Linked DNA regions of Homo sapiens: all the other regions are linked to region 1. Evidence: fine-mapped expression QTL. A gene starts in region 1. Each other region holds a variant in brackets. All regions are shown on one strand. Distances are from middle to middle.

Region 1 (8,388 bases):
GAAAGACAAAATTCCTATTCTTGTGGAGCTTGCATTATATTGTGTGTGTGGGGGGGACAGAACGAATAAGTAAACATATAAATCATATTATTTTAGACAATAACAAGCACTCTAAAAAATAAAGCAGGGTAAGGAGGCAGAGAATGTTGGGAGTAAAGTGAGAAGCTTCTTTAGGCAAGGTCTCCTCAAAGAGCTGACATTGAGACGAGATTTGAGTCAGTGAAAAGTGAACCTTCCAGGTAGAGGGGACAGCAAGTGCAAAGATCATGAGGATGGTATGAACTTGGAATGTTTAAGGAACAAGAAACACTGGAGTGAGTTAGGGGGAGAATGGGGAGAGAGGGACCTGGGAGGAGAAGCAGGGGTGATATAAGATGTTTGGATTTTACTAAAATATGATGGAAAACTCCAGGAGGAGTTTTGAGCAAGGGAGTGTGATATGATACATGTTACAAAACACAGACTATGACTGCTGAAGGTGGAGGTGACTGAATTATACGGGGCAAGAATGGAGGCAGAGAGAAGCATTGAGAGTCTATAGCTGTAGGCTATGGGAGAGATAATGATGGGTTGGAGGAAGGTGGGAGGAGACCTGGTGAGAAGAGAAATTTGACTGGGGATTTTTCTTTAAGGTATACTGACAGGGCTTGATGCCTTGTGTGTGGGGGCTAAGGGCAAGCAAGTCAAGGATGACCCTGGGTTATGTAGCTGGAGCACTTGGTGAAGGCTCATGCCATGTCCGTAGAAGTCAGCAGTGGAAATTTAAGACAAGGGAAAAGTCAAAAGTCCTTAGTTGGCCATATTACAATTTTTTGTCATGATCATTAAAGTATTTTAAAAAACAGCTTGAGATATAATTCACATACCATACAATCCACCCATTTAAAGTATACAATTCAATGGTTTTTACTATATTGTGAATATATGTGAGAGTTTTACATCCATCACCACAATCAAATTTAGAGCCTTTTCATTACCTCAAAAATAGCCCCTACACTTTTGAGCCATTACCCCCTAATCCTACCTCCCTGGCCCCAAGCCCTAGACAACCACTAATCAGATGTTTTGTCTCTATATATTTGCCTCCTGACTTTTCATAGAAATGAAATTGTATAATATATGGTCCCTTGTGACAGGCTTTTTTTCACTTAGTGTGAGGTTTTCAAGGTCAATGTTGTAGTATGTGTCAATGCTTCATGTCTTTTTATTGCTGAATAATATTCCATTATATAGGCATACCACATTTTATTTATCCACTTATTTGTCAATGGACATTTAGGTTGTTCCTACTTTTTGGCTATTTTGAATAATGCTCTAAACATTTATGTACAAGTTAGTATATGGACATATGTTTTCATTTACCTTGTGTGGATATTAGGGATAGAGTTGCTGTACAGCAACTCTATGTTTAACTGTTTAAAGAACACTTTACATTCTAACTAGCAGTATATGAGTTCCAATTTCTCCACATCCTCACCAACATTTATTATCTATTTTATTCTAGCCGTCCTAGTGGATGTGAAGTGATATCTCACTGTAGTTTTGACTTGCATTTCCCAGATGGCTAATGATGTCGAACATCTTCTCATGTCTTTATTGGCCGCTTGTATATATACTTTGGAGTAATATCTATTCAGATCTTTTGCCTATTTGCAAATTGGACCTTTTATTGTCTTGTATTATCTAGTTGTAATAGTTTTTTAGTAGATACAAGTTCCAATCAGATATGTCTTGCAAAGATACTTTTCCATCGGTTGTTTTTTTTACTTCATTGATGGTGTACTTTGAAGTGCAAATGTTTTTAATTTTGATGATGTGGCCATATTATATTCAAGATGTCTAATAGGTAGTTAGAGATGTAGGCCTGGGGTTCAAAATAGAGGCTGGGGATAGAGATGCATATTTGAGAGTCATCCCTGCACAGATATTTAAATCCATGAGGTGGGATGAGCTTAATAGGGAGGGAGTGTGGCGGGAAGGGAAGGGTTGAGGAGTGAGTCCTGGGGCTCTCCAACATTTAGAGGTCAGGAAGAAGAGGCAGAGGGATAATCAAAGACAACTACTGGCTCCTGAAGAACCCATGGAGGTAGGCCATCCTGAAGGGGAGGGTGGACTTGGGATCTGGCATCAGGTAAGATGTTTCAGTGTGGCTTCCACCGAACACAGGTCTCACTGTAACATTCCACCACCAAGTACATACATAGCCATGTGTCCCTTCATTGTCACTAGAGAAACTTGCTGGGCCCATTCTATGAAGGTCACCTTAGCTTAACAGACCTACACACTCAAAATCCCCACTCAAGGGTTGCACTTATAGGAGGAGATTGCAGTACTTAGTTATCTAGAAAAGATTTATGACCTTGTTGAGATTAACTCTTGTTACTGTTAATGGATGTTATGCTGCAAAGCTATGACAGAACATATGTCTTGCTTTATTTTTTAATGGAACAAGCTAAAAGTCCCATCCCACAGGACCAGCTAATTACACAGAGACTTTAAAGATAGAGAGCTCTGAAGATCTTACCCAGACCACCTTTTCCCCTTGCTGGGGTCACTGTACTTTTAAGGATTCTGGGCTTTCTGAAATCAATAAAAGGGCCTTGGAAACAACAGTCCAAAGCAACTCAAGGCTGTTCCTGCTGAGGTGTACTTAAAGACTGCAGAGGAGAGACAGGAAATGGCTCTTATAATACAACATGGTGTATGGTGTCCTTGTCCACAAGGCCCAACAAGACTTGGGAAATCCTATTCTCTTCAAGATGTGTGATTTTAATGTTAGCTTTAAATGCAACACGCTCCGGGTGGAAGGAAAAACACGTGGACTCTGTTAGTGAAAATACAGAGTCAAGGCAGACAGATTTCCTTTGGGTCTTAGCCGAATCTGAGTTGGAGTCAGCTGACATCAGTTTACCTCTTAATCATTCAGCTCAACTTCTGGATTGTGCAGTAGACTTCTTGAGCTGGAATTTACCTGCTTGTTCACTTTCTTTTTCATCTGCCAAAGGACCACAACATAAAGGGCCAAATGGGACAGTGGCTTGCACACAGAAATATCCAGAAAAATAGGGCAGAGACCAGAACAGCATGCTAGTAAAGCCTTCTCTCTTAATAAGCTGCGCTGATTTGGTGAACTTCACTGGGGCTCCTGGGGTCAAAGTTGTGTAGGGGTTAAGGATATAGGAAGTGAAAGTGGGTGCAAGTGAGAAGGGCACGTTCTTATTAGTGAAGAGGATTCTGAAACGTTGGAATTGGTTTCCAGGAAACGAGGGACGGCTGTTCTGAGGTTTCCTTGGACTCCTCTGGGATCCCTGTTGTGAATATCAAAGGAGTACTGCTGGTGAGGGGGAGCGGGGGCTTCAGAGAGAGTGGGAAGACTGAGCAAGCTAAGTGGAGTTCATTTGGTATAAATCAGAGGCTGTCATTTCAGATTTCATGACTCTACATATCCAGTTATAAATAACGTTCCTAGGTGTTAGTAGGACAAATAGGAAGTGGGACAGAAGTCTTAAATTTGGGGGATCTTCATAGGGAAGGTCAGGTCCTGAAAGGGTCGCATAGAGGGGAGAGGACCCATTCTCTTCTTGCCGGCAAGTAGAAAACAAAGCCCAGCCCAGCTTTTCTCTCCAGAGAATGTTGTGGTGGGAGAGGGAAAAGAAGGTGGAGGTCCCGGAGGAATTGCACATGGGGCCAAAATGTGACTATGAAAGAAGAGTGGGCTTTTGATAATACCATTAAGAAAATCACGCAAGAAAGAAAAAAAGATGGTTAGGAATTACCCCTATGTGGCAGCATCTGCCCTGCAGAATGAGAAGGTTTGCAAATAGACTTCCCAAACCCCAACCACAGCTCGCTCCGCCTCGAGGACCCCTTTTCTGCACCCCCACCTCAGCGCCCTCTTCCTGCACCCACAAAGAGAGTACTCAGTCATAGGGGTTCAACAGGAGAGAGGAGACAGAAGGTACAGGCGGTGAGCAGGGACTCAGCCATCATCCCCCTCAGGTCCCTCCCCACCCAGTTGACAGAGCGAATCCCGAGTAATTGTTTTCCGAGGGGGTCCGTGCGCGCTCGGTGGCGCCGCCTCGGTCTGGGTTCCCCCGAGGAAAAATACCCACCCGCGAGGGCTCGGCGGCTTTTCGACTCGGCGGGGATGAACTGTGGCAACTTCGGCAGCCCCCACCGCGGTGCGGAAGTAAAGAGGGCAACATTGGCGACTGCGGCTCGGAGGGGCTGGAGCGCGTGAAGCCGTGGGGGCGCCGTGCGCCTCCCGCTCTCTCGTTTCGGCCGCAGGTCCTGGGACTCCGACTTCGGTGCTCCGGGTGATAGCGGCTGCGGCGCCTGCAGTCCAGATCCTCGCAGTTCTGCGGGCGAAGGAGGCGAACGGAATCGGCCCCCAGTGGGGAGCGCAACAAGCCACAGTAGCCAAACCCCGCGCTCCTGCCCGGGCTCCCAGACGAACGCAGCCGCAGCGGGGGGCCGGGCCCCGAGCCCCACGCCGCCGCCGCCGCGCCAGCGGTGGGGGGCGGGCTGGGGGCGGGGCGGCCGGGGCTGCCTTCCCGGGCGCATATGCGAGCGCAGCACCCGGCGCTGCCGAGCCACCTCCCCCGCCGCCCGCTAGCAAGTTTGGCGGCTCCAAGCCAGGCGCGCCTCAGGATCCAGGCTCATTTGCTTCCACCTAGCTTCGGTGCCCCCTGCTAGGCGGGGACCCTCGAGAGCGATGCCGATGGATTTGATTTTAGTTGTGTGGTTCTGTGTGTGCACTGCCAGGACAGGTAAGCATGACTGTGGCGGTTAGAGGGATCCGGGAAATGGGGGTGCCCACAGACCACGGCGGCGTGGGGAGACCTGGAGCCGAGCTTTGCGCTGGTCTGGGGAACGGCGGTAGCGTGGACCGGTTCCTGGGATCTCTTTGCCCTGCTCGGAGTGACAGGGTGAAAATAGGGACTCACGGGCTTGAAGATGTCCCCGTTGAGTGCCCCTTCTCAGGGGACCCGGCCTCAGGGGCGCAGGAGTGAGGGGCGCGGCCGAGTAGGCGCACCCTCTTGCTGCTAGTAACCGGCTTTCCGTCCCAGGGAGTCGAAACCCGCAGCAGGGCGGGCCCGCGTGCCCCGAGTTCCCGAACTTGTAAGGTGCTGTGGAAACCACTCTCGCCGACCCCCGCCAGGCTGGGAAGGGGTAGCTGCGGGAGTCGCACCCGCAGAGGGAGCGCTTCCGGCTGGCGGGCGCGGCCGGGGCCCGGGAGGGCGCGGTGCGGCGAGGGCAGAGAGCTGCGGGAGAACCCTGGGATCCCGCGATCTCCTCCTGTGCCTTCCTGACTACCCAGGAGAACTCCAGGAGTATTCTCCTCCGCCTGTCTTTGCTCCCAAGGGCTGGGCGAACAATTATCTGAGGGAAATAGAGCAGTGGAGACAATCTGGGGAAATTTTCTCAAGCTCAAACCAGTTTTCTCTTGCCATAATCGCAGGGTTCCGTGTGGGGAGGGGGGAGCAAGGATGACGCTTGATTGTCTGAAGTCCCCACTTCGTTCTGCCTCCGGAGACGCAGTTGTGAGGACTCTCAGCGCATCTTCTTCCTTCTGCTTCCACCGGCTCCCTTGCCCAAAAGTCCCCTGGGGTTCGGAGACTGGCTTGCAGCCGCCTTCTTCAAAGAGCTAGTAGTAGATGCGGGGAGACTGGGGTGAGGTGAGGTGGGGTGAGATGTAGGAAATTGGCAAAAATAGGGCCTGTCAACTGGGGGGAGTGTCGGAGGTTTGCAATCCTACCCAGCCATCCTCCGTACGCGCTGCACCCCAGAATCTGTGTGGTCATTCCCTTTCCCTTTATTCTCCCCCCTTTACCATCCTTATTTCCTTCTTTAGAGGCGTGGCCTTCTCTCTAGGCCAAAGAGCAAGTTCATCTGGAGAGGGCTAAGAAGGGGCGTCTGCACTTGGTTGGCTCAAAAGTTCCCTCCGCTTGCGCCCAGGCGCCCCTCTTTGGCAGTTAGCCCGCTGGAAGATCTAGCGTCTAGGAGCTTTCAGAGGGCCCTTCCCACTTCCCCAGGACTGAGCAGGCAGCGGCTTTCGTCTGGTTAAGAATGTTGAATATGGATTTCTCAAGGGACAAAAGAAACCTCCCATTCCGTTCCTTACCTCTATCCGAGCTTCCCAGGCTGCGGAGACGCCAAGGCTCAGTCTAGCTTAGAATAGTTGCTTCTTGAGTTCAGGCCCATCCGGATGGGTTAGTCTTTTAAAACCAGGACACGCTGAAGGAGTGCGCGCACCCCAGGAAGATCAGGACAGGCAAGACTAGTGCAGAGCGTGGGCTACTGGCTCTGAGCGCGAGAGTCTGGTGCTCGTGGACATCTTACAGAGGAACCGCAGACAGGAAGAAGCTAGGTAGGGAGGGGGCAACCCGTTAGTGAGTTCACATCCCTAAGTGCACATCACTACGGAATATGCCTAAATCCTTTGTTCTCATTACTCCTTTGAAAAGTCGCCAAAGTACCCTTATCACGGAATGGAACGTGTTTCAGGGTTCATTGCTTGTGGAAGGGGTCTTTAAGAACAGGTATTTTCCCTCTTTCCACTTCCAATCCCCTTTAAATCTTGTAAAAATTTCGTTGTAGGGGAAGATTCATTCATGTCTTTACTCATTCAACAAACGATGTCTTGCTGGGTGCCAGGATTTCTTATGCAAAGAGGAAATGACAGTCCTTGACTTCTAGGAACTTAAAGCTCAGCTGGGAATCTAGATAGAAACTGGCAGGCATTTTAATTTTACAGATTGATGGGGGGGGTGGTGGAGAGGTAGGAGTATAAGTTTGTATTAAGGAAATGTGGAGGAGAGACAGTTTGAATTAATTCTAGGGAGGAGTGGTGGTCAGGGATTTGAGAGATGTACCTTCAAGGCTTTCTAGGGAGTTTTCCAGGTGGACAAAGTGGGAAGGCATTCTTGGCAGAGGGAGCAGATTCAGCAAAGGCAGGGAAGCATGGAAGGATCTGACCCACTGGTTGTGGCTGTTGCCTAGGGAGCTTGGGTTCTCAATGTCACTTGGCACTATTTGAACACTAGAGGCCGCATATTTCTTCTACACACATTATCGGAAGAATCAGAGAGACGGGGGAATTACCTCTCAATTTGTACACTTAAAGTATCTTGTAGCTTGAGAGGGTATAAGCGGTAGCTTTCTGGAGGCAGCCCTCTGATTCTGTGCAGAAATCATTTCCACATCATCCATCCACCCTCTTCTTAGGTAACAAAGGCTGGCTTGTGATTATCAGCATCCAAACAGCTGCGTTGAAAGTTTCTTTGTCAAGTGGGACAATTGTTGTCTGGGCTGTTAACAGTCCTAGATGAAATAAACATGTGGTTCACTTAGTGAGCTGCTCAGATATCACCGGCTTTTAATGGAACTGAGTAGATGATATCAGGCACATTTTAATTAAAGCAAGACTGCAGTGCAGACACAGTTGCATATGAAAAGATCTAATGATAGGTGTCATGAGGAGCTGCTTAAATCTGCCTTGTTCAGAGAACTTGTTTTAGAGTGCAAAGTGGAGTCAAGACGGGAGGTGCCATTCTCCAGTTCTTGTTATTTCTGGTTGAGAAATAATTCAGAGATTTTCAGGTACATCACTAATAATGAAAATTTAGAAGGCTACAATAATAGCAGTAATAACACACTATCTCTATGAGTTTTCACCAATGCTTTGGCAGTGTGAATAATTGAAAACTCAATAATTATTCCCACATTGCTTTCCAGTTTGTTTTGGTCACCAGGGCAGAGGGTGAAGGGAGTACCTACACCTGCAAAGCCCCTACTGACCAAGTGAATGTCTTTTGCTGCCACCTGCTGGAAAGGAGAGAATTTTTTTTTTTTTTTTTGAGATGGAGTTTTGCTCTTGTTGCCCAGGCTGGAGTGCAGCGACATGATCTCGGCTCACCACAACCTCTGCCTCCTGGGTTTAAGTGATTCTCCTGCCTCAGCCCCCCCCCCCCCCCCCGAGTAGCTGGGATTACAGGCATGCACCACCACGCCTAGCTAATTTTGTATTTTTAGTAGAGATGGAGTTTCTTCATATTGGTCAGGCTGGTCTCGAACTCCTGACCTCAGGTGATCTGCCCGCCTCGGCTTCCCAAAGTGCTGAGATTACAGGTGTGAGCCACTGCGCCTGGCCAAGAGATTTTCTTTTGGAAGGAACTCTCAGGTGGATCATTAATTATGAATTGAATAATGGAACTGTGAACATGAGCCCCCAGCCTCCAAGGATCATGGAAAATACTGGCCAGCTTGGAACAGGCATAGAGCATATTCTTCAAGAAAATTGCTTTTGGGGTATTAAGGACCTTCGTAGGTGCCCAGGGGCCCAAACCTGATTAAGTGGTTGTGAAATTCTGTGGTTAAATGAGCTCT
Region 2 (8,388 bases), 620 kb after region 1:
GCTTGCACCGTCCCTCCTCCAACCCCAGGCTGCACAGCTTACAGTTCCCAAGGAGACCCCTTTCTTCTGCTTGAGGAGAGGGAAGAGTGGGGAGGACTTTGTCTTCCATCTTGGATACCAGCTCAGTCACAGTAGGATAGGCACCAGTCACAGTCAGAGTCATAAGGCCCCCTTGCCATGCCCCAGCTCCTGAACATCATTTCTGGACACCCCCCGAGCCAGAAGGGAACCTGCTGCCATGAAGGTAAGGACCCAGTCTTAGAAAGACCCTTCACCTGCTGACTAAAGAGGCTTATGGTAATAGTGGCTGTGAGGTGAGGCTCCTCTGCCTGTGGAAACGGGAGGGAAGGGTTGGAGGGACTGTGTCTTATGATTTGAGTGCCAGTTCAATTGCAATACAATAGAATACCAGGTAGACTTCTAAGGTTTCTGACTCCAGTCCCTGGCTCCTGGATGGCACCTCTGTACCCAACCAGGGCCTGGAGGAACTTGCTTCCCTGAAGAGAAGGATGCAAGCCTGGCTGGCTTCACTATCCACAGATTGTAGACCCAGGGCCTTGAGTGAACTTAGGGGGTAGCCAGTTAGTGGTTACAGCAGACCTTGGACAAGGCCCAGTGCTTTGATGGCTTAAGGACTGACCCAGCATAGTTCCAGTGGTGGTAGCCACAGGGGTACTTGTGTCACTCCACCCCCAGATCCAGAGAGAGAGAGAGACTCCATTTGTTTGGGAGAAAGTAAGGAAAGAGAAGAAGAGTCTCTGCATGGTAATCCAGATAATTCTTCCGGATCTCATCTAAGACCATTAAGGTGCTACATCTAGGAGATGCCTATCTCTCGTCATATACAAAAATAAATAAAAATGGATTAGACTTAAATCTAAGACCTCAAACTATGAAACTACTACACAAAAACATCAGAGGAAGTCTCCTGGATATTTGCCTGGGCAAAAATTCTTCTTGTGTAATAATTTACACGCATAGACAACAAAAGCAAAAGTGGGCAAATGGGATCACATTAAGTTAAAAAGCTTCTTCACAGCAAAGGAAATAGTCCACAAAGTGAAAGACAACCTACAGATGGGAGAAAATATTTTGCCAACTATCTATCTGACAAGAGATTAATAACCAGAATATATAAGGATCTCAAACAACTCTATAGGAAAAAAAAATCTAACAATCTAATTAAAAATGAGCAAAAGATCTGAATAGACGTTTCTCAAAAGAAGACATACAAATGGCAAACAAGCATATGAAAAGGTGTTCATCACTGATCATCAGAGAAATGCAAATCAAAACTACAATAAGATATAATCTCAGGCCAGTTAAAATGACTTATATACCACCACACCTGGCTAATTTTTGTGGTTTTAATAGAAACAGCGTTTAGGCTGAGGCACGGGAATCGCTTGAGCTTGAGAGGTGGAGGTTGTAGTGAGCTGACATCATACCATGCACTCCAGCAGGGGCAACACAGTGAGACTCTGTCTCAAAAAAAAAAAAAAAAAAAAGGCTTATATGCAAAAGATCAGCAATAAGATGCCGGCAAGGGTGTAGAGAAAAGGGAACACCCAACACTGTTGGTGGGAATGTAAATTAATCTGACCACTATGGAGAACAGTTTGGAAGTTCCTCAGAAAACTGAAAATAGAGCCACCATAGCATCTAGCAATCCCACTGCTAGGTATATACCTGAAAGAAAGGAAATCAGTGCATAGAAAATATATGTGTACTCTCATGTTTGTCTCAGCACTAGTCACAATAGCCAAGATATTGAAGCAATGTAAGTGTCCATAAAGAAATGAATAGACAAAGAAAATGAGGTACTTATACACAATGGAGTACTATTCAGCCATAAAAAAGAATGAGATCCTATCATTTGCAACAACATGAATAGAACTGGAGGTCATTATGTTAAGTGAAATAAGCCAGGCACAGAATGACAAATTGTGTATGTTCTTACTTATTTGTGGGAGCTAAAAATTCAAATAATTGGACTCATGGAGATAGAAAGTAAAGGATAGTGAAAGAAGCTGGGAAGGATAGTGGGGGAGTGTGGGGGAGGTGGGGATGGTTAATGGGTACAAAAACTAGAAAGAATGAATAAGACCTAGTATTCACTAGCACAACAGAGTGACTGTAGTCAATAATAATTTGTGTACATTTTTAAATAACTAAATGAGTGTAGTTGGATTATATATAAAAGATAAATGTTTGAGGTGATGGATATCCCATTTACCCTCATGTGATTATTATGCATTGCATGCCTGTATCGAAATGTCTCATAGCAATCTATAAATACATACACACACTATTGTACCCACAAAAATTAAAAATAAATATTTTTTAAAAAATTAAAAAATAAGATAGAACAAATTGAGCACTCTCGTGTGGGATTTTGGTAGTGGAAGAGGTTGTGCTTATTTTGGACCAAGAGAAAACAGGACATGTTTGTACCCTCCACTCAATTTCGCTGTGACCCTAACACTGCTCTAAAAATAAAGTCTGTGTTTTTAAAAGCATGTGATACAGAGTTTCACACACTGAATTTGTCTAGTGAATTATTATCTAGATCCAAAATAGTTGTATTTTCTACTATATAACACATTACATCATCTGTCTAGCTATCTCTCTCACAAAGTAGAATGTCTGTGAAATAGAACACAAGGAAGGAGAGAGAATTATGACCCAAGCAAGAATCATGGGTCCAGAATTCCACCCAAGGAAGCTAGTTCAAAGCCAGAGAAAGAGCACAGCTTTTCACACAATTGAATAGATCTCAACTTCATGATTTTGGTATTGAAGATGCTGACAGTAGCCAGTGGCTCTGTGAAGGCAATTTTCCAACCTACCATTCTTGGCTACTCCTGGGATATTTTACTTGGCTGTGAGATCCCCCTGAGAAGCTTCTCTTTTTCTCACACAATTCCTCCATCAGCGAAGTGTGGTGGGCAGCACACAGTGACTATGATTCCTGGAGATGGCACTGGGACTGAACTTATGCTGCCTGTCAAGATTATGTTCAGACATGTGTGTGTGCCTGTGGACTTTGAGGGAATGTCAGTGACCTCCACCTCTGCCTCACATGAAGAGGAAATTCATAATGCCATCATGGCAGTTCATTGAAACCGTGTGGCTTTGAAGAGTAGCGTTAAAACTGACGACACCCTGCCACCATCATACAAATCCTTCAACAACATGTTGCATACCACCCTAGATCTCTATGCCAGTGTCATTCATTTAAAAAATTTGCCAAACGTGGAGACCTGGCACAAAGATGTAGACATCCTAGTTGTTTGGGAAAACACAGAGGGTGAGTATAGCAATCTGGAGCATGAGAGTGTGAAAGGAGTGACAGAGAGCCTAAAGATCATGACTAAGGCCAAGTCTTTGTGCATTGCTGAATATGCCTTCCAGCTGGCCCAGAAGATGGGATGCAAAAAAGTGATGGCTGTGCACAAGGTCAACATCACGAAACTGGGAGATGGTCTCTTCCTCCAGTGCTGTGGGGGAGGTGGCATCCCGCTATCCTCAGCTCACCTTAGAAGACATGATTGTGGAGAATGCCACAATGCAGTG[A/C]GTATCCCAGCCCCAACAGTTTGATGTCATGGTAATGCTCAGTCTTTATGGCAATGTTATCAACAGTGTCTGCACAGGTTTGATTGGTGGGGCAGGCCTTGTGCCTGGAGCCAACTATGTCTATATGTATGCAGTGTTTGAGACAGCTTCAAGGCAATGTGACAATTTAGTCAATACAAATCTGGCAAACCCTACCGCCATGCTGCTGGCAATTTGTATCATGCTGGATTACCTCAAACTCCACTCCTATGCCACCCACATTAATACTGCAGTCTTGGCATCCTTGGACAACAAAAGTGTCCACACTGCAGACCTTGGAGGCCAGGGTACCACATTGGACATCATTCAAAACATCATAGACCACATTTGAAATGTCAATTAATTGTTCTGTGCCTTGGAGGCTAAGCTATCCCTCAAAGTCTGTCCTGTCCTACTTGTTACCTCCACTCTTTCTGCTTTAAAAACCCTAGCCAGCTTAGCTACTGCAGACTCCACAAGAAACCAGCTTATCCTTTAATTCACAAGCAGGGCAGGGTGGGGGCCTGTGTGAACCAAAACTGATTTTTTTCCCATTAAATTGAAATGCCATAAAAATTTTTTGTTTAAATTGAGGACAATTTTATCTAAATGAATTGAGGACATTCTTATCTATTTTAGTCCACAATTCTCCCTTCTCTACGATATTATATACTGAATAAATCAGAGCTGTTTGTGGAGTCCTGGGGCTTTCCCAGAGCTTGGCACACTGATTTTCTCTTTATCTTGGTCATTAACATTCAGCAAACCAGCCTGCAGAGAAGCCTGGCTTCTCTCTAGAGGTCGTTAATGAGTTAATTAGTGCAATAAACTTTGCCTAAAAAATATACATTGTAACTTTTCTAATAAATAGGACAACATACAGCAGAGCTGACATAGAATGCTTCCACTCCTTCCTAGATAGCCCATCTTTCCTATGGTCTTATTTATGACCTTTACGTTAGGAATTTTCTCCAGTGTTCTGTTTCACACATGAACATTTTTAGGCACTGCAGCTCTTCTGGAAAGGGGATTCTTGAATTCTTCCAGCTGGACTCAAGAGTGTAGAGGTCAAAACCCCAGTTAACAGGCACTAGACCCACAACATTTTGCGAAACAGAGAACTATCGATTGTAAACTCTTTGGTCAGTGTTTCACAGTCTTTTACGGTTTACTTTCAATCTTTCAAAGAAAGAATGTGTGTATAAAACAAAACAAAAGAAAACAAAAAGCACTGAGCTAAATGTTTACTGTCACTTTATCCTATTTTATTTGTAGTATTTTTTAAAGTTATAGTTGGGAGACAAACTAAAATAACTTTATTGGTGCTTGGAAATTGTTACTTAATTAGGAAATTAAAAACACAATGACTGTAAAAACTTACAGTAGTTTTATCAGTAGGAAAGGCCTGTAGATAGAAATGAGACAGAGAAAAATAATGAATTCTACATTGTGGAAATGTGTGTCTCGCCTATTACCTTTGGATCTCTGCCTGGTTAATAGGTCACAAGTTAAAGACACTTAGACCATAGAAAGTTTCTTACAGTTTCCACCAGGCTCTGCCTTAATCATATTACCTTGGTCTAACCTTTCCTAATTGGGCATAAAGTCAGGGCCAGGATTTGGACAACTGAAAGCTAGTTTGAGAGGATTTAGTCTGAAAAGAAAGTGACTACCTGAAACCCTATCTAGAAGTCTTTCTTGAAGAATAAGGCAAACAGGAAAGAGTCTATGTATAAAATGACCCTGATAGTCACTTTACTGGCCATTAGACATGTCACTGTCCAGGGCTGCCACTAGCCCAAATGGTGCCCACCTCTGGGCTGATCTAGACGTGCACCAAAGGCATGTTCTTTTCAAGTGGAGCAAGGGGCGGATTTTAGCCAGATGGCCCCCTGCACCTCCAATGCCACGCTAACTGATCTTACTTTAACCCATACTATCCACTCGTACCACTCTTTTTTATGATGACAAGGATTTATTTATGGCACAATCAGCTTAACAAAAGACAGTGGCCCAGTTGTTGGCTTCTATTTAGCAATGGGGGTTTATGATACACTTCAGTTAAAATTTCTCTATCTGTTAAAGATGGTCATTTTCAGAATCCCATTGCAATTCTTGGACCAGACTGCTGCAGTGACACCTAGTACACCATAGTAAAATTTTTCATTTCCACTGTTAGATGCTCTCACTTAGATATGAACATCTCTAGGGTAAGCTCCACGTGTTTTCTTTCCTTGTCCTTTGTAGTCTGTAACATAATGGCTGGTACATAATGCATGGAATACATGTTTGTTGAATCAACCAAAATATGAGTGTTATGGTTGATACCGCTACACTTTTTTATCTGTAAAGTGTGATAACTGTACCTGCCTTATAGGGTTGTTGGAAAGACGGAGAAAATTCACGTAAAACCTGTGTTGTTGTGCCTATAAGTGCTTAGTGTATTTTAGAAATTATTATATTCCTTATTACACAGAATATACCATTCTAAAAGATAATTCTGAATAGAACTGAGTGAATTTTATTAATTCATTATAGATTTTTGGTTTGCGGCCAACTTTTAAATAGAAAAGCAAATCATATCTGCTGATTCATCAAGTCTCCTTATTCTAGCTCCTTTTTATTTCTTGAATCTGGCAACCCCTCTTTTTTTTCACCAACACCTTCTTCCTCATTAGCTTTTCTTATCATTGGTAACTTCCTAATTTCTCTTACTGCAAGTATAGCTTCCTAACTGATGTCTTGCCTGTAGTTTAGCCCTGTTCAATCTATTTTCACAATGCATCCAGCATGATCTTTCTGACAGGCAAAGAGATCATGTCCCTTTCTTACTTAAAACCTTTATTCAAAGGCTTCATTTTTTCTGTAAAAGAAAGGCAGTGGAGCATAGCATGAAAACCATCTAATGTTCTGGCCTCATTTTCCCTTCCTCAGGTTCACCATGTCTGTCCCCCCACCCTCATTCCAATATCAATGCAATGTGGCATTCCAACAAGACTATAACAGAATTTATTGTTAAAGGACCATCTATTCTCTCTAGATCAGGCCTTTGTATACAGTCTTGGTTCCTTTCTTCTTCATTAGATGAATTTCTCCTCATGCTTCAGGACTCAACTTAATCATCACCTTTTTTGGGGAGTCTTATCTTTTTACCCCTCTTCCCATTTTTTGCTGAGATTGAGGGGGTAACTCTCAGTGTCCCCTGCCACAGCTCTCTATATACACTATCTAGTATTTATTTCTCTGATTGTGATTACATGTTTTATCCCCACCATCCCTCGTTAACTTTACTGTACAATGCATCCCTTGGCAATAGGAGTGAAGTCATTCATCACTATAGCATCAGAACCTAGGATAGGGACAGGCTCTTAGTTCATACTCACTCTAAAGAAAAGAAGAGAATAGAAGGAAGGAAGAAAAGAAATAAGGGAAGGAAAGAAGGAAGGAAAGAAAGAAAAAATAAGGGAAGGAAGGAAAGAAGGAAATAAGGAAGGGAGAAGGAAAAAAGAGGGAAGGAAAGAGGAAGGAAGGAAGGGAAGGAATGAAAGGAAGGAAGGAAGGGAAGGAAAGAAAGGAAGGAAGGGCTTACTCCTAATGGCTTAGGAGTAGGGAACTGGAAGAGCTAATCTATTGCAAAATGCTCTTGTCTGACTTCAGTCTATGAAACTATCTTACAAAATTACTCCTCTCTAAAGAAGACTAAAGCCCTCAAGTCAGTAAAACAGTTGGTTGGCAGGCTGCCTCTGTTTCCTGAGAAAATGTCTGTACTGCATTTGTTGGATAATTTCATCTTAGCCTTTATCAGTTTACTGTGCTTTGTTTACAATTCTGGTGTTATAAAAAATGGCATCAACAAGTTGTCTGATTTTTCTCTAAATTACTCCTTCTCTTTACAGATTTGTTTTGGTTACTGGTCTTACAAATTACTCAGTCATTCAGATTTAATAGCTGACTGACATTCATCCCAACTCTGCCACACAGGAGCAGTGTGACATTGGATAAGTTGCTTAACCTCTCTGATTTCTAGTTGCTTATCTGTGCAATAAAGGTAAATGTGTACCTTCATGGGATTGTTGTCAAAATTAAGTAAGATTGTTTTGGTTGTCTATTGCTGTAAAACAAACTATCCAAACATTAGTGAGTTCGAATGACCAGCAATTATTTGTCATGATTATGTAGATTAGTCGGGGGGTTCTTCTTATCAGCAGTAGGATGGCTAAGAGCTCCAGAATCACCTCATTCACATGGCTGGCAGTTGCTACTAATGATTGTCAGTCAGGGGGCCTCCATTTTTCTCCACCTGGTTGTCGTATGTGGTATGTGGTATTTTGATCTCCTCACAGCAATGGCACCTGGGTTCTAAGAAGGAGTGTTCTAAGAAGTGAAGACCAAGGCTGTAGACCTCTTAAGGCTCAGACATGAAAGTTGCTTAATGCCCTTTCTACTATATTCTGTTGATCAAATTAGGCAATAATAGGGTAGACCAGATATAAGAATGGGGGAACAAATTCTGACTCTTGATGAGAGAATGACAGGGTCACATTACAAAGGGGCACATAGGTGAGGAGCACTATTGATGTGACCATTTTTGGAAACATGCTCTACCACCATGAAAATGTATTTAAAACTCTTGGGCAAGATGGCCCAATAAAAACAGCTCCAGTGTGTGGCTCCCAGCAAGATCAATGCAGAAGGCGGGTGATTTCTGCATTTCCAACTAAAATACCTGGCTCATCTCATTGGGACTGATTAGACAGTGGGTGCAGCCCACGGAGGGTGAGCCAAAGCAGGGTG
Region 3 (8,388 bases), 730 kb after region 1:
TTTTCTTTTTGTGGGGTGATGGAGGAGACATTTCATCAACATTATCTTCCAAATTAATTGAGTTATTCATTCAATGTAGCTACCCTGTTTCATTATTGCTTTCTGAATGTTTTTGAGACAGGGTCTCACCCTACCCAGTCTGGAGTGCGGTAATGCAGTAATGGCTCACTGCAGCCGGGCTCACGTGATCTTCTCACCTCAACCTCTGGAGAAACTGGGACTACATACAGGTGCATGCATTTTTCCCTTATCTTCACCTTTTCTTAAACATTCAGTAGTCCTTGGTTATCTGCTGATTTTTCAGAGTGCCACTTATGAAAAGTTGATTTAAAGCTCAGTTTACCTATGTGGGATGCTGATGTCAATGATTTTAGGTTCATTCTTTTGAACCATTCAGATCTTGTAGGGAAGAGTCTTTCTGTTTCCTAGAAATCAATCCTATAAATTAATTAAATTTCTGGAGCAATTAAACTTGATTGCTAGCATTCTGAGAGTCAGGTCGGAAGAATAAGACAAAAGATTGTAAAATTCAGTTTGTAAATTTTTAATTAATACCCCTGTCTCAGTATAGTATTTCTGCTCTCAACTATGTTCTGACCTTTGTGGTACCCTCTGCTGAGACTAAATCTCTAGTGTTTGCTGGGGCAAAAGAAAGGCAGTAGCCTGGCTGGGGTAAGGAAACAGCTCTGAGGAATCTAACTGCTTTTTAATCTAGCTTCCAATTAATTTTCCTATTTTAGCTTCACTGTTCCCCATAGTTTCAGAGATACTTGATGCCACCAATTACTGAGTCCTATGCAATAAGTTGCTTCTTGGCTTTCTCCACTCCAGGCTATGAGTCATTTTCTCCTGTCTTCTAAGTGAGTTATCATTCATCCACCTCTTTTCTAGATTCCAAAATTATGTTACTTTTATCATTTCTCCTGTGTGCTTTACCCAAGAGGGTTTATATCCTTTATAATTTGTCTTTAGTATTATCTCGTTAGAGTTTGAGGGGAAAAGTAGGGGTAAATATGATTATTTAAGCCAGTATCTTTAACCAAAAGCTAGCCCCTTAGTTCTGAAACTGTTTCTTTCCCATAGATAAAAAGTCACAAGAAGTCCTGGTCATTGTGATAACTTATATACAATAATAATATAACTGACCATAAAGATAGTCATATGATATAAAATGTCATCCACTTTCAAAGAAAAAAGGTTAATGGAATGAATACAATTTTATTTTATACTGCATGACATTTACTCTTTACAAAAATTTATCAACAGAGACTTTCTGCAAAGATAGACATTTCCCCTTTGGAAGTAGAGTATTTATCTAATTTCAAAGACCAATAGAGCATTATTTAAGATATTAAATGTTTGAATTATTCTTTTAAATTTGCAGGATGTTATGGGAAATTGGGACTATAAACTGCCATTCCACTAAAGATAGTTAAGTCAGAATTTTTTTTTTTTTAAGCAAGAGCTATTTCACATGAAATTTTATGTGAAATATAATTTCAAGTGATTTGGACGTGAGCTTTCAATGGTTTAAAATACGACCAATGGAATGTAAATAAGGGGAAATGGGAAATGGTAAAGGGAAATATAGTGCATAATTGGGGTTGAAGGACCATCAAGATGCCACAGAGATGAGCTCTGAGATCAGTCTTATTTAACAACTTCATTAATGATCTGGAAAGAGAATTCAACAAGTTAATTAAATCTGCAGATGGTCCTTTGTGGAAGTTACAAATACCAGGGAGAACTGAGAAATAGTGTAGAAAGACCAGGGGGTCAAAAGCTTTGATAGCTGTGGGCACAGAAGAGCAAAATTAAATTTGGGAAGGGTAATTACAATTAAATACACTTTGTTCAATGAAAAAAGTAGTTAAACTGCAAACAACGCTGAATAGAAAACAGTAAAGCTAAAAAAAATTCTGTGGCTGATGAGCAATTTATTTAGATAAGAGCAAAGCTTTCTGACTATAGAAATAAAGTTATTTTTAAATAAAATGTACTTTATAATGTATTTGTTCTGTGCCTAATAGTCAAAAAACAGGGATTTAGTGACCTGCATTTGGCTAGTGTTAAAAAGACAGGAAAGCATTGCTCTAACTCTCAGATGTGCTTATTTTCTAGTACAGTAGATAGATTAGAAACTCATGAAAATACTCTAATATATCCTGAGATTAAGATTGGGAAATGATGGGTAGAGCAGTAGAGCATGAGGGGAACTTTTGAAAGATGACTGACTATGAAATAGTTGACTTCCACTTTTAAATATGGGTGGTTAGTGTTAACGTGCTAGGTGGTTGAGAAGATTGGCAGGTACTTTTATATCCTTTTCTGGTAGTACCTTTGACTATGGGAAGTCCTCTCAGGTCTGGGTATTGGAAGAGCTTCTTTAATTTTGAAAATGTGATCAGTAGTTAGAATTCTACCAAGGCCTGGGGGCAGTAGAGCAGACTGGATGAAGTTATAATGGTAATTATTAGAAACGGAAATCAGATATACGCAAGGGCACACATAGGCAAAAGGTCAATCACTTACTGAGTATATTGCCTGTGCCAGGATGGCTCCAAGTACTTCACATAAGTTAACTCCTTTACTTCTTACACTCATCCTATAGGATTAGACATTATTCTTATCTCCAATTTGCTATTTAAAAAATCCTGAAACCTAGAAAATGTAAGAAAATTACATAACTTTAAGTGCTAATAAGCACAGGACAGTAGGATTCAAACCCAGGGAGCCTGCTTCTAAGATTTATATGTTTATTTTCCCCAGCTATGTTATAGTATCTCTCATAGAATATTACCATAAATAATATATACAGAACTCATGTAAGGTATATATACACATAAATGTATACATATATATGTATGTATATAGCCCTATATATGTGTGTATATATATGGCCGTGTGTGTGTGTGTTCCATTCTTTAGAGTTCTAGGGGCTTGTCCAAGACAGACTGGACCCAGAGGCATGTTTTATATGCAGCTCTTATTAGCAGAATTGTCCTTGTATATAAAGTATGTGAACAGAATTTGTTGTCTACAGTTTCCAAAAAAAACATTATCTTAAGGAGGTGTGTATTGTATCTGGGTTAATTGATGATGGGTCTCTGGAAGGGAGACACATTAGCTAATAAACACATAGCTGAAATTACATAATTTCATAATGTCAGTCTCTACTAGTGTCACTAAGGGTAGAATCCTGAGTCATCATGTTTTAAAATTTAAATATTAACATCTTCAAGAGTTAACACTTATGCATGCTAGAATATTCAGATATTCTATAAGCTTAGTTAAGGATATACATTGAAAATCTTTATATTTGTCCACGAGCTACAAGTTCTCCTACCCAGAAGGAGCCAGAATCACTAGTTTCTTATATGTAGGTTAATAGGCTACCAATTGTAGTGGGACTCAGATAGTATGTGATTGTTTAGATTGATGAGGATATCTTGGAGAGGTATATACAAGGGATATTAAATGGATTTGAGAGACTGAAAGTAAATTTCACAGTTCTATTTGTTAATAGCTAGCATGGACAAATTACCTATGAAAAGTGTACAGAAAACCATTAAGAAATAGAAAAATGATTAAAAAGGACAGCTGTATTGGAAAGCAACAAGTTAGGAAGGAGAAATCTAGAAGATTAATACTGAGAAGAGCTGCCTGGGGTGACTGACAGCTTTAGCCTCACCATATCTGCCCTCTCTTTGAAACTAGTCAGAATTTCTCAAGCTTCTCCAAATGAGATCCTGAGTTAAGAAGAATTCTGTGTTTGTAATAAGGTGAGGTGGTTTGAACTGAAACTTAATCACATTTAGGAAAGTCAAGTATCCCTTCTGGGAGAGATCAAGCAGATTATGAAATGATTTTAGAGAACTCATAACAAGTTTCTTCTAACTTTTACATCTATATTTGGCCAAATAAAACACATGGAAAGAAAGTCCTGTTTTGGTCCCTGGGGCAAAAGACTTAAGAAATATTTCTAACTTCTGTTTAAATGATTCAGTTTCCAAGGCTCACTTCACCCACTAAAATGGCATTGGTGATCATAAAGAAATTTCTTCATGATACAGTGGAATCGCTTCTATTATTCTAGTAATAGTAATTTCTCTATTATTTACTAGTATACAGGAAATAACACAAGTTATGCCACAGAGTGTAGAACCTTGAGAAACATTAAATATTAAAAGCATAATTCTACTTTTTGACATCAGTGGAAATTACATTGGCCTCTCTGAAAAAAACTCCTCGATTGTGTCTCAAAGATGGAGCCTGAAAAAAA[C/T]AACAAAAAAGCAACATCAATCCAAAAAAAATCAACCAAGTGTGAGAATTTATTGATTAGAAAAATAAAACAAACAAAAAAACAAAAAAAGATCAACATTAGCTGGGATGACATGTAACCTAGAGAGACCAAGTCAATTCATGCAGACTTAAAATGTCAATACCTTCTTCAATTCCAGTAGCAAGTGGTTGCAACTTCTGGCTGAGGCAGTTTTCACTTCTATATACCTGGCAATGGAACTTCCTTCATCAAATAAATGAATTTTTGCCCCAATGCCTTGTCATCAAAGCATCAATAATTGAGTAAACCATACCCTGTGAACTTGCTCATCACTTACATTGTTACCTTTCTCCTAAAGTAAAAAATCTACAGGGCACTAATCTCGTAGGACAGGAGCTTTGAAGGCAAGCATTTTCTAATTTTCCAGTGCCAGCAACTGAATTCACCCACATTTATATGATTTCTTAATTCATTCACATATAAAATAATATGTTGAAGCTCAGGAAACTCGTGGCAAAAAATATAAAAGAATCTATGGTTAATTTAGTGAATAACAAATGGTTTCAGAATGCTAGACACAAGAGCAGACACAGGTTTTATCTCAGCAAGACAGAAGATTGATAAAGGAAGGACTAAGGAAATACAAGATCTGGCCACAGGGCCATTTATGAATTGCAGAACCCACATGTATTCGTTTGTCACGTCAATGGTTTCTGAGTACTTGCCAAGTACAAAGATAATTTAAAACAAGTGCATATTAGGAGCATTAGGGGAGATAAGAGAGGCACATAAATAATTATTAATGCATGATTTAAAAGTGATAAACTCTGTATGAGAGGTTTAGATCTTTGGTAGGGTTTTAGAAAAAGTATTGCTTCTGTTTCTGAGGATTGGAGAAAGGATCAGGAAAATTGTCATGAATGAAAGGCATGTGTACGGAACATTAAGGAATGATTTAGACATATCTAACTCAAACTGGAGAAGTGACATTCCAGACAGAGAGAATGCCATAAAAAAAAAATTGCAGCATGAGACTGTACGTAACACTGTGGTAAAGCTGACTAATTTGGTTTGAAAGCTAGGTGGGATTGTACTTATTTGTATTAACATCAGATGTAGAGGGATGAGTTCCTATCTTTTCCCTGATGATTTTAAGGAGTATATATGAGAAAAATATTAAATAGTAGCAGAGTTGAGGACATTATCATCTTTCTATCATGAAATAATGTGTCAAAAGTTTCTTCTTAACTATGTTTGTAGTAAGTTTTTAATGTATCACTTTCTTTACAAAAAGTTCTCTTCTTTCCAGGGCTGTAGCATTTTATAAGACACACGAGGAATCATATAGCTGTAAAGACTATGCTAACTTTTTATTGCCATGCAAAGTACATCAATGATTTATTGTTCTTTAAATAATTAGCATATTAATATATAACATGTGAAGACTGAGCATCAGGCATGAATAGATTCATAATTTTTTGGTACCTCTTAAAGCTTCCATTGATTTTTGTCATTTAAAAAATTAATTTAAAAAGTAGTATATTTTTATTGTAAAAAATGGGAAAATATGGAAAAGCAAAAAAGAAAATTAAAATTACTCAGTCTTTATACTAAAAGAGGAAATATGTATATTACTCTATTTACTTCCACCTAGTATTTCCGTGTACGTACACTTCTAAATTTTTGTCAGTGAAAAATACATATTGTATTATTTTAAGTCATATAAAACACATATAAATTATATCACAAACATGTATCTATATTAAATATTTTATAATTACACAAATAGGTTTTATAGCCATGTGTGCTCTATCACATTTTAAATCATTTAAAATTATACCTTGATATGGTTTGAATGTTTATGTTTCCCTAAAATGTATGTGTTTAAATTTTCACCCTCAAAGGGATAGTACTAGAAGATAAGGCCTCTGGGAAGTGAATAGGTCACTTTTGGATATGATTAGTGCCTTTCTAAAAAGACCTTTGAAATTGTGACAACTGCCCTTATATTAGAGGCCCAAGGGAGACTTCTTTTCCTTCCACCATGTGAGGTTAGAGTGAGAAGACAAAGCTCTCACCAGATACCGAATCTGCTTGAACCTTGATCTTGGACTCTTCTGTCGCCAGAATTGTGAGAAATAAGCTACCTAGTCTACGATATTTTGTTATATCAGGCTAAATGAACTAAGATCTACATATTAAAAATAGTATATTTATATATTATATAAATTTAAAATATGTATTTGCAATTACCAAGAATCAACCTGTATTTTTTAACTTTGTTAATGAATCATAAACCATTTTTAATTTATGAACGAGATTATACTAGTGAAAATAAAGGACTTTTTGGCTTACTCACCTGAGGGTGGTGTCCTCCACTGGCATGCCCATAGGTGGCTTTATAGATGGGCACCATAGTTCCAAGCATCATTCTCTGAACGTTGGTACAAAGTGTGTCCCCTGAGGCTCTCTGTATCTTTAAATGTTCATTAAAAAATATGACACGTATTGTTCCTCCTATTCTGGCAATCTGAAAACCTTGTGTGATTCACTCCGTCAGCTCTTCTGTTGGGTGATTCATAAATGTGCATGAGTCCAGCTTTATAGAAAGTTTCTGGAGCCATGGGAGTAGACACTTTTGTCTTGGTGAGAAAAAAGATCCAAGAGGGAGCATAAATTAGGTTTGGAAAGAATGAAGTCAGGAGGAGGATCAAAGTAGACTCTTCCCAGGCAAAAAAGCAAGGGCCCAGATAAGACCTCAGAGAGTTTGAGTGAGGAGGGCAGTTAGAAGGAGCACAAGATCTCATTAGAACAGAGATTCTGTTCCTACCAATGATCAGCTGGTCTTTACAATGTCTGGCAGATGCTCAGTAAATGGCCTCTGAACAGAATTGAATTTTAAGTTCCTTTGTATAATGCTTAAAAATCTACTTTTGTTTTTACTTCATATTAATATCTTCCTGATTTAAAAGGTTATTTCTATTCCATTCCTGCCTCATGTGGCCATTTCCCTATTTCTCTTTGCTTCCAGTTCTTTACACTTTTAAGTGAATTTAAAGCCAGTCAATGATTTTCATAGAACTAATTGAAACTAACAATTCCCAGGTAATCCAGTTATTCAGTGGCAGTTAGTGACAGTACTCAGAATGGTTGTTACAATATTCAGATTTGTCTTTTGGTGGTAAGAACAGCCATGTCTCTTCTGAAGAAAGAAAAAAAAAATATTAGACGAGCTCAGCAGATGTAACCCACTGTATCTCCAAACACTTCTCTTGACGTTTAGCTGCAAAGGGCCAAGGAAAATAAAGCATTACAAGGGTGGTAATGGAATATGGTAATGGAATATAAAATATCAATTTAAGGTCAGTTGTATATCTACAAGTAGATTCAACTTTGTGACTGATGAGTAGGGAGGAAGCAATGAATTGGGTGTTTGGGTTCATTACTAGTATCTAGGCATTTTGTCAAGTTGTGTCGGTGGTTGACAATCGCTTCAGTTGCTATTTAGGTATTGCAATGTGTTAGCTTAAATTAAGTAGCCAAGAAATGCATAAGATTTAGGACCAGACACAGGAACACCTTTGAATTGTTATTTCAACATTAATGTGTATCATTAAGCAACTTTCATAACATGTTTGGTTCTTAGCTTCTTCACCTGTCAAGTTAGGGAATCATTGCTAAATAATTTTTTAAAATATAAATAAAAATAATAGCCAAAATGTATTGAACATTATATACCAGATGCAGATTTAAGTGCTTTCACATGTGTTTGCTGATTTAAGCATATATTACTAATTTCTCCATTTTACAGATAAGGGAACTAAAACAAAGAGAGACTAAGTAATTTAACCCAAGTTTATATGGGTGGAATACGGCAGACCTAGGGCTTGAATTTAAGCAATCTAGCTGCAGAGCCTGTACTCTACTGTCTTTTACTGTGCAATACATCTCTCATTTGTGAAAGCTATGATACCGATGATGGAAAATAACGGCGATGCTGCTGATGGAAGATAATGATGATGTTGATAATGGAAGTTGATAAGAACGCTGATGTTAACTCAAGAAAATAACATTACTGACACCCTGACCTGGGAAAGTCGATTTTT
Region 4 (8,388 bases), 180 kb after region 1:
GCATGTTGATTCTGGGTAGGGTCTACCTTGCACTTAAGCAAAGGCCTGGGCTTACAGAATTCAGCTAAGTAAATACAGGTTGGAAAAGATTTGCCTTCATAACATTTTGTGTTCAAGGTCTTGGGGTGTTAGTTGATGGGAAAGTCAGTGTAGGCGTAGTTGTGCACAGCTCAGAGCAAAGCAGGTGATAGTGTCACTGTACTTTGCATTAGACCACATCTGTACAAGTGCCTTTATTCCTGGATGCTGTATTTAAGTGGAAAATTGATTCATTTGACCATGCCTAGCGCATGGTGACCAACATGGGGAAGGCTGCAAAGAGGAAGAAGGCAGAATCCTTGTCCAGGAGGGGCTCATAGTTTAGATGGAGATGGGAGTATAAAGGAAGGAGCCAGGGAAGCTTGGCTTGAAACAGAAGAGGGAATATCACTGCTGTTTTCCGATATTTGCAGGATGAGCAGACTTTTCTGGGAGCGAAGGCAGTTTGTTGGAACAACACACTTGGCTGAGGTCCAAGGCTAAGGGCTTGCAAAATCTTTTGCTTACAAAATCTGGCTTATAATTTTATCATTTATACAGCTGCCCTCCCCAGAGACTCTTGAAAAGACCCCAATACACCTGAGTCCTGAAGAATGAGGACTGGTGAGGGGTAGATTGCTCACTAGATCAGCCTACTGTCACTTCCAGTGTCCTCCTTCTACCTGGCAGCGCCACGTGGCTCCTATTCACTTGCTCGTAGCGTCAGACTTCTGCTCCCTTCATCAAGACCAGCTGGCCAGGAAGTAAGGCAACACCTGGCATACTACTATAGTGCTTCTTAAACACAGATGTAAACATAGAACATGAATCATCTGGGAGTTTTGTTGGAATACAGATTCTGCTGCAGTAGACCTTGGGGTTATCCCAATAATCTGAATTTCCACAGGTGATGCTGCTATTGGTGTTCTACAGACCACCCTGAGTCACAAGGTTCTACTAGAAAACATGAGTCTTCCCTCCAGGCTACAGCCAAATCCCATCAGGCCAAATGACTTTCTGCTCAGAGTTGCCTCACATCTTTATTTGTAGAGCATTACTGCCTGGAAATATTGCCTTATTTTCCTCCTAGCCCTCATGAAAGAATTTTATCCAGATGTCACTTAGCCATCCAGTGTTTTTATTATTGCTAAGGCTGCTTCAGCAGTTATCTGACATGTGTTTTCAAAAATATATCATCTTGATTTTCATCCAAGTTGCATGAGATGCAGCACTTTTTGAATATGTGCAGGATGTGGCCAGAAACTTTAGTCTAAGATAAAAGTATCATTTGCCTGACATTAGGACAGACTTCTTTTCTCCTAGCTATATATTTGTGATTACCCCAATGTAATCACTGACTCCAGTGCTTTATAAAGTGATCTTTAAGAGATCTGTTTATAATACATTGAACACTTGCTCAATGAGGCCACAACCCCAAGAATAATGATGAAATCTGGTTAAATGTATTTGCCTCCCTCTTTAATGATTCCAGCAGGTGACTTCTGTGAGTATTTCTAATTGTCATTGATTGAAGCCCTTTCAAGGTCATGTCCCTTCCCCAAGTAATTGCTTATTGGTCAAAGTAAAGTAATTGAGAGATTTCTCATGATGTGTGAATCCTGGTAGGATCTCAAATATAAGCTCGTGGTGCATTTCTATACAGGTGCTAAATGGTCTTGGGCAAGATACTTAATATCTTTGATCATCTATAAAATAGGGATAATGAAATCTACCTTAAAGAAATTAAAAAGATGATGTCTATGAAAGCACTTGCCATATTCCTGGCACATGACAATCATTCATTAAATGACTTTTCTTGCCTCCTCATTTGTTCCTTTTAGGCCATTTTTCACCCTTTTTTTGGGGGGGCCGTGGGGAGGGACATATTTTACTTCCTTCTTCACTAGTTCACAAAGCACCTTCAGACATGGGATATATATTTTAAACCCCTTTTTAGTTTTTCATTATGTGTTCAGTAAAGACATATTGAATGAATTAATGAATGGCCAATAGTCTGTAACATCTTCTTGACCTCTAAGTTCTCCGATTGTTTGATTCTTCAGTGTTCTAACAACTTAGAAGAAACTGGAGAATTCCCTTAAAATAAATGTCTTCTTTGTTAAAGCATTTCCTTTTGTGCAGTCTTATAAAGTATGTATTACATAAATTATTACTAATAAGTATGAACCTGGGCCTAGAAGCTGGCTGCTATGGTATAAATAACCTCTTTTAGTTTATGACCTTGGGCATGATTCTTTGTACTGGTGCAAATGAGGTGGGTCAGAGGCTGGTCTTGACTCTCTGCTTGCCCTTCACTGTTTACTTTGGAAAGATCTGTGAAAGATGAGCAAGAAATATGTATTTGTTCTTTGGCATGACTTTTGGGATTCAGGCACAATAGACGCTGAGTTTCCTGATATATTCATTTCATTCCTCATAGAAGATGCATTTTGTCTTTTAGATTAAATACCCTTTGGCTTGTGGGGTTAGCCAGCTCAGTGGATTAGAATAGAAGCAGCAGGCCCTTCCAAATCTAGGGGTTAAGCCTAGTTACCTGTCTAGGCTAATCGCTCTGGAGTTGACCATATGAATGAGTTGTTGGAGTTAGTGCCTGGTGAGGCTATCCTCACCACTTTGTCATCATGCCTCTGGGATGGGCAACAAACTGGCAGAAAGTGCATACACTGTCAAATTTAGATCTAAGTTTAAGTCTGGTTTGGGTATGTTTAATCCTTAATCTCAGTTTTTAAGTTTTTTAAAAAAGATAATACCAGTCTCAGGTTTTTTGAGTGATAAATTAGTATATGTGAAATACCTAGTGCAAGCCCTGGCAGTGAGATCAGGCCCAACGTTGATGACAATGACACATTTCAGAAGAGAGGCATAGGAAACAAAATAGTTTTGGCACCTGTGAAAGTACTAGCCCTGTTGTGTGCCTGAGGAGTGTCCCAAAGTTGCTTGTAGCATTTTATGACTGAAGTGCAGACCACAGTGGTAAGGCTAAGAATTTCTTATGGGTTTGAAAAACAGGATCATAATCCTGGAAAAGAAAAAACTTAATTGCATATTTCATTCTCTGATAATTTGAAATACTAATTCCTATGTGACTAGCTTCAACCTTTTCTCCCCTACTCATTATCTAGGAATTGTTATTCAATTATATCTTTTTGTCTACAGAGAAGAAAAAAGACTAATCTTTTCATTCTGACAATGTATTTCAATCCCTGATGTCCAACATGACTTCCATTTCCCTTTAATTCTTGAAAAGGTAAAGATAATAGTTCTGAAAATAACCATCAATAGATCCATTCCACATGAATGGCCTGTTTTAGACATTCATGGAATGAGGGTTCTGATTTGTACTTTGAAGTATTTAAGAAACACTGCACTGAGTTTTGCTAATTAGCTGTGGCTTGTTACCTCATGGTGGACCAATTGATCTCTGTTTCAGAGGCTCAAGATGTTGCCACGAGGGTTCTCAGACAATAGATTCATTGGGTGTCCTACAGTGAATTGACTTGAGGTCTTGGCTCTTTGTGCCATGTTTAGCTAATTTTAGATTGTGAGAGACCTGGTAGTAAGGGGTTGAGGGATTGATGATGGCTGTGATATCCAGAACTAAAATAAAACAAATGTTTGTTCCTTTACATACAGCTATTTTGAACTGGAGAGCAGTGGCCTGAGGGATGAGATTCGGTATCACTACATACACAATGGGAAGCCAAGGACAGAGGCACTTCCTTACCGCATGGCAGATGGACAATGGCACAAGGTTGCACTGTCAGTTAGCGCCTCTCATCTCCTGCTCCATGTCGACTGTAACAGGTATTTCTTTGTCTTTGAGTGTTGCTGATTCTGCCCTTGAAATCAAGCAATGGAAAAGGGGAAAAAATATCAAATTCCTTCAAGACTTGCCAGGAAACAAACACCAAGGGACCCTAATTGTAATTTAACCTACCAAATGGGACCTTAGGCATGCTGAAATGACCAACTGTAATATGATAAGAAAACAGTTCATTAAGATGAAACTGTATCCCGTGATTAGGAGCAAATGTACAAAAGGTTGATTGCAGATTGGG[A/G]AATAGTAAGTGCACCTCAGTGTGCTCCAGGCACTGGCTGGAATTCCATGGAGCTGTGATCACAGTTAACGGTGATGTATTGTTGTTGAGTTCGTTCCACTGGGAAGCGAATAAGCTTGTCTACCCTGGAATGAATCTGAGAAGCCTGTGCCACTGAAGCAGCTAATTCTATTTCACTTCATCAAGCTCACCTTTGCTTAAATATCTTTTCCAAATGGAGGCTTCTTAAAGAGGCTGTTCTCTGAGCCTTTTGGAATTGATGCCAGGTATTTTCTCCAGAGGAATGAGCCTTCCAGCTTGTCAGGGGATGGTGGGACCAGGGGGTTTCACAGGAGGTTTTGGGTTGGGGTGGGATGGAAATGTTGTCTCCCTTGTCTGTCACTGGAGCCAGGTTTAATGAAAATTGAAGAATGAGGGAGTCCATTGGTTTCTATTGGATCATTTATGGCTGGACAGCTGGATAATGGTGTTCAAGGGGAAAGTTTTTATCTCTCCATAACCCACTGAAGATCCTTATGGATAGTGACCCGAGTCCAATTACAGAGTTTTTTTTTGCATTCTGAGCAGTGCCCATGCATTGTTGATTCTCATTAATGATGCCATCAAAGTTAAAATGACTTTTCAGCCACACAAGGCTTGCTCCCTTGAACCCAGGATAAAGAACAGGCATATTGGGGATAGCCTCCCTTCCAAAAACCATCAAGAGGAGAGATATTCCAAGGTCAGTCAGCTTCAGACCGCATTTCTCATGAGGAGATGCTTGAATATGCCTGCCACTCTAGCTCTGCAGTCTCTTTTAGAAGAGTTGGAAGGGCAGGGAACTGTTGTCAGGCTCAAGGGAAGGTTTGCCATCTTGAGGTGAGTCTTGGTCCATTTTGATATGACCTATTTAAGGTGCTTTTTAGACTTCTGAAGAATTGTGGTTTCCACCAGATATAATAAATATGTCTGGACAGAGTTTCCATAGAAACCACTAGCTCCTTTGTACACTGCAGACTGGGGCTGGGCAGCCTGGATAAAGCCAATGCTTAGCTGCTATATCCATTTTCACTTTCAAGAGCTCATTGCCCCCTTCAATTCTCTAGAATTAAAGTGGCCTGTCCGGCAACACTCCTATGACCCACTGTGACCTACCACCCACATGCTGTCTAAATGGGATTGCAGAGGAAGAGCCCTGCTTGTCCTTCTAAGCCACAGGACAGAAAGAGGCCACAAAACCCTAGTTTCGTAATTTCCAACTTAAGAGTCCTGGAGATACTGCTGTTTTCTTGCTATGCAGTTTTTTGTTTCTTCCTTCTAAGAGTTTTACTCTGTTTCCTGACATTCTTCTCTCTGGAGCAGTTCTTAGGTGGTGCTTGGCCTTCAGTGCTCAGTCTACATTTGTGGTGGTTGTTGTTATTTACTCTGCATATCAATGGCAGCTCTTTGACCCTGCCTTCAAACTTTCATACTCTGTATGTCCTTCATGGAAACCATGACCTCTCTACCAGGAGAGTGAGAAGAGGATAGGAGATCTGTAGTTCACAGTATTCTTTAGAGTCATTGCCATTTATAAAGAATTGACTGAGGGTATTCCAAATATTCCTTCTGTTTTCTTAATATTTTTCATACTTTGGCTTGTGGCATAACATGTCCTTTATGTAAGATCTTGGAGGGAAAACTTATGAAGTTGCTGCTAGTTAATGATTCGTAGACTCTAAACACAAATACATTTTTCAGGTAGGTCAGGAGAAAAAATGGACCCAAAGACTGGTCATAAGAAAAGTAAATTTTGATTTTCATGTAGGAAAAGGCTAGAAACATGGTTCCAAAATCTGACTATACCTAAGAATTACCTGGGGAACATATTAAAAAAATGGATAACCAGGCTTTGCCTCTGACCTACTGGATTAGATTCCCCGAGGGCGGAACCTGAGAAGCAATATTTTTAACAAGCCCTCCATATAGGTTCCATGCGGGCAGTCTACCCTTGGTGAATGGACTGGCATTTCCAAACCACTGGTTTAGAAAGAGGGGAAGGAATTTGGTGGAGAGGCTGGGCTACAACAAATAAATGAAGTCGTGGAAGACCAGTTACCTGAAGGAGGGTAAGAAGGAGAAAAGGATTAAGGAGAGGGTAGTGTCTAATGCACGAAACAAACTTTACCTTCTTCACAAGTTTCTTCCCAGCCAGAACTTGCCAACTTTACAGTAGCAGAAGCTCTGTCCCATATATCAAGATGCTGGTTCTATCACTTTTAGTCTCAGCCACCCTCACAGAGAGTGAATTTCAGCTATCCATTACTACTTTGTGATTCTTATTTTTTGATCCCTGTTACTCTTAGAGTTTTTCTCAACCTCTCACCCAGTAGTGTTCTGCTGATTAGAGTATGAAAGGAGATGATGTTAGATAACATTTGATGTTGATTGTGCTAGGCACAGTGCTGAGTACTTTACATAGATTAACTTATTCCATACTCATTCTATTAGTTTTTCCTCTTTTTAAGATGAGGAAACTGAGGTTATATATTTGTCTGTAACCCTGCTACTAATAAATGGCAGCACCAGGATTTGGACCCAAGTTTGACCTATGAGTGTCTGCATCTAGCTACTACTAAGCTATTTAGCCCAATAGTGGGGACCATTGACACTTTATTTGGTACATGAGGGAAGGCCAAGATTCAATGTGAGCAGTTTGTTCCTTTCTAATATTTCCCTGCCACATGTCTTATATTGCTAATCCTGGGAGCTGCTTGGAAAGATGTGAAATCTAATTGATGGAACCCTTTACTTTGGTGCTGGAGAAGGGATATACATTTATTGAGCCTCTACTATAGGCCAGGTAATGTTCTAGTAATAGTATTCCTTAGGATAACCATATGGGGACAGTTTTACTAGATGCATTTTGCATATTTGGAAATAGAAAAGCTCAAGATAAATAACTAGGTGTCAATCACATAATATAATAAGCATATAACCCAAACTTTGAGTCTGAAACTATCTCCAAAACCTTAGTCTAACCCACCCTCCAGGTCACCTCCATAGTGTGCTAATGACATGTACTGCCAAAGACAAGGTCACAACCACACCAGGGAGTCTTCCCAAGGGAGAGATACTACAGAAGGTTCAGGGACCATGAGAACTCTAAAATCGAGAAGAAATTTCCCAGATAATTCCATTGCTCTGAGGAATATTAATGTGGCAGGATTTCGCACATTATTTTTTTAGGTCAGAATTGAGGAACAGCTTTTTCAGACCTAATTGTACAAATTGTCACAAGAAAAGCAAACGCTATTTTAGTTGGTAGTTCAACACTTTCTGCTTGCTACGGAGACACTTTTCTCCTTGTTTCAGCTGTTTAGCTGGGCTTAGTTAGAAGTTCCTGATGTGTGGATAGCAGATTACCTCAAGCTAGAAACATAGAAGGAACCATTCAGTTGGGTGGGGAGACTGATTATCTCCATTGCCTTGGGTTTTTCTCCGGCTACCTTTTATATTAAGAGTTGGCAACAAAGCCTGGAATGGAACCTGAAGAAACCTTCCTTAGATTCACCCTCTCCCTTCTCAGCTCACTTTACAGCCTGTCTCTATTACTCAAAGGACAGAATCCACCAACATCTGGGATTCAGTGCATAAGCAACCTTTCCCTTTCACAACAAAATGAATTTTATTTCCTTCTCTTTATTTGTAACTTTTAATTTTCATTCAGCCCATCAAATTTATTTATTGGGTACACTATCTCTGCCAGGCTGTGTAGGATACAAGGAAATAAGAGTCCTTGCCACCAGGAAGTTCTTGGCTTATTCATTTAGTCATTTTAACTTCGTTCTGAAACCACCAGAGCCCCTCACAGTGATTGGGCCTAGTCCCTGGGTATCAGAGGAAGCCTGGATGCAGACAGGAGCCCTGTAAGCAGGCTGATTTGATAACTCGCAATGGCAGCTGAACAGTGGAAAGAACTGGAAACAGTGAACTCCCAGCATCTTGGTCCTGAAGTGACAGTGGAGCTGAGCTCCTCAGCAGCTAAGAGATGGATGGCTTTTAATTCACCCAGCCTTTGGCCAGCACTTTTTGTAATATGCCGGCATCCCTACCCTGTGTTAACCTCCTTATGCCTCATTGCTGGAAAAATTCAGCTCTTAAGTGCAGTCTATCACATTTCAACTTAGCTCTTATTTTTTCAGACTTGTTCAAATGTGTATGGCACATACACACACATCTGCAGCCCGATTGTCACCTTGACAGAGAGTTAACAAGTGATTAGTCTAGACTAGACTAAACATACTTATCTTTTACTTTTAACACATGCTAT

Direction of the effects. Alleles are on the strand shown, and positions count from the first base shown. SD is a standard deviation of normalised expression in the study named. Not every link is listed here.
For the expression in testis of the gene that starts at base 4,577 in region 1, allele A in region 2 goes with a higher level than allele C (small effect, 0.20 SD a copy in GTEx).

Evidence for each region. PIP is the estimated chance that this variant, and not a neighbour inherited with it, causes the effect.
Region 2: its variant is the best candidate, but not a certain one, in a credible set for the expression of NELL1 in testis (GTEx, PIP 0.59).
Region 3: its variant is the best candidate, but not a certain one, in a credible set for the expression of NELL1 in lung (TOPMed, PIP 0.77).
Region 4: its variant is the best candidate, but not a certain one, in a credible set for the expression of NELL1 in unexposed skin (GTEx, PIP 0.64).

Annotation. Positions count from the first base shown.
Region 1 is chr11:20,665,010-20,673,397 of GRCh38, forward strand. It overlaps NELL1 (neural EGFL like 1), which reads left to right and starts at 4,577. Exons shown (of 20, transcript NM_006157.5): 1 at 4,577-4,769. The coding sequence starts at 4,715.
Region 2 is chr11:21,280,991-21,289,378 of GRCh38, forward strand. All of the region lies in intron 14 of NELL1 (neural EGFL like 1), which reads left to right. It also overlaps the pseudogene LOC100631258. Among named protein-coding and RNA genes, the nearest start is that of NELL1-AS1, 23 kb to the left of the region's middle. The variant A/C (reference allele first, on the strand shown) is at 3,577.
Region 3 is chr11:21,391,552-21,399,939 of GRCh38, forward strand. The region is part of intron 15 of NELL1 (neural EGFL like 1); the gene reads left to right. Among named protein-coding and RNA genes, the nearest start is that of NELL1-AS1, 130 kb to the left of the region's middle. The variant C/T (reference allele first, on the strand shown) is at 4,283.
Region 4 is chr11:20,843,911-20,852,298 of GRCh38, forward strand. NELL1 (neural EGFL like 1) reads left to right here. Exons shown (of 20, transcript NM_006157.5): 4 at 3,673-3,843. Among named protein-coding and RNA genes, the nearest start is that of NELL1, 180 kb to the left of the region's middle. The variant A/G (reference allele first, on the strand shown) is at 4,098.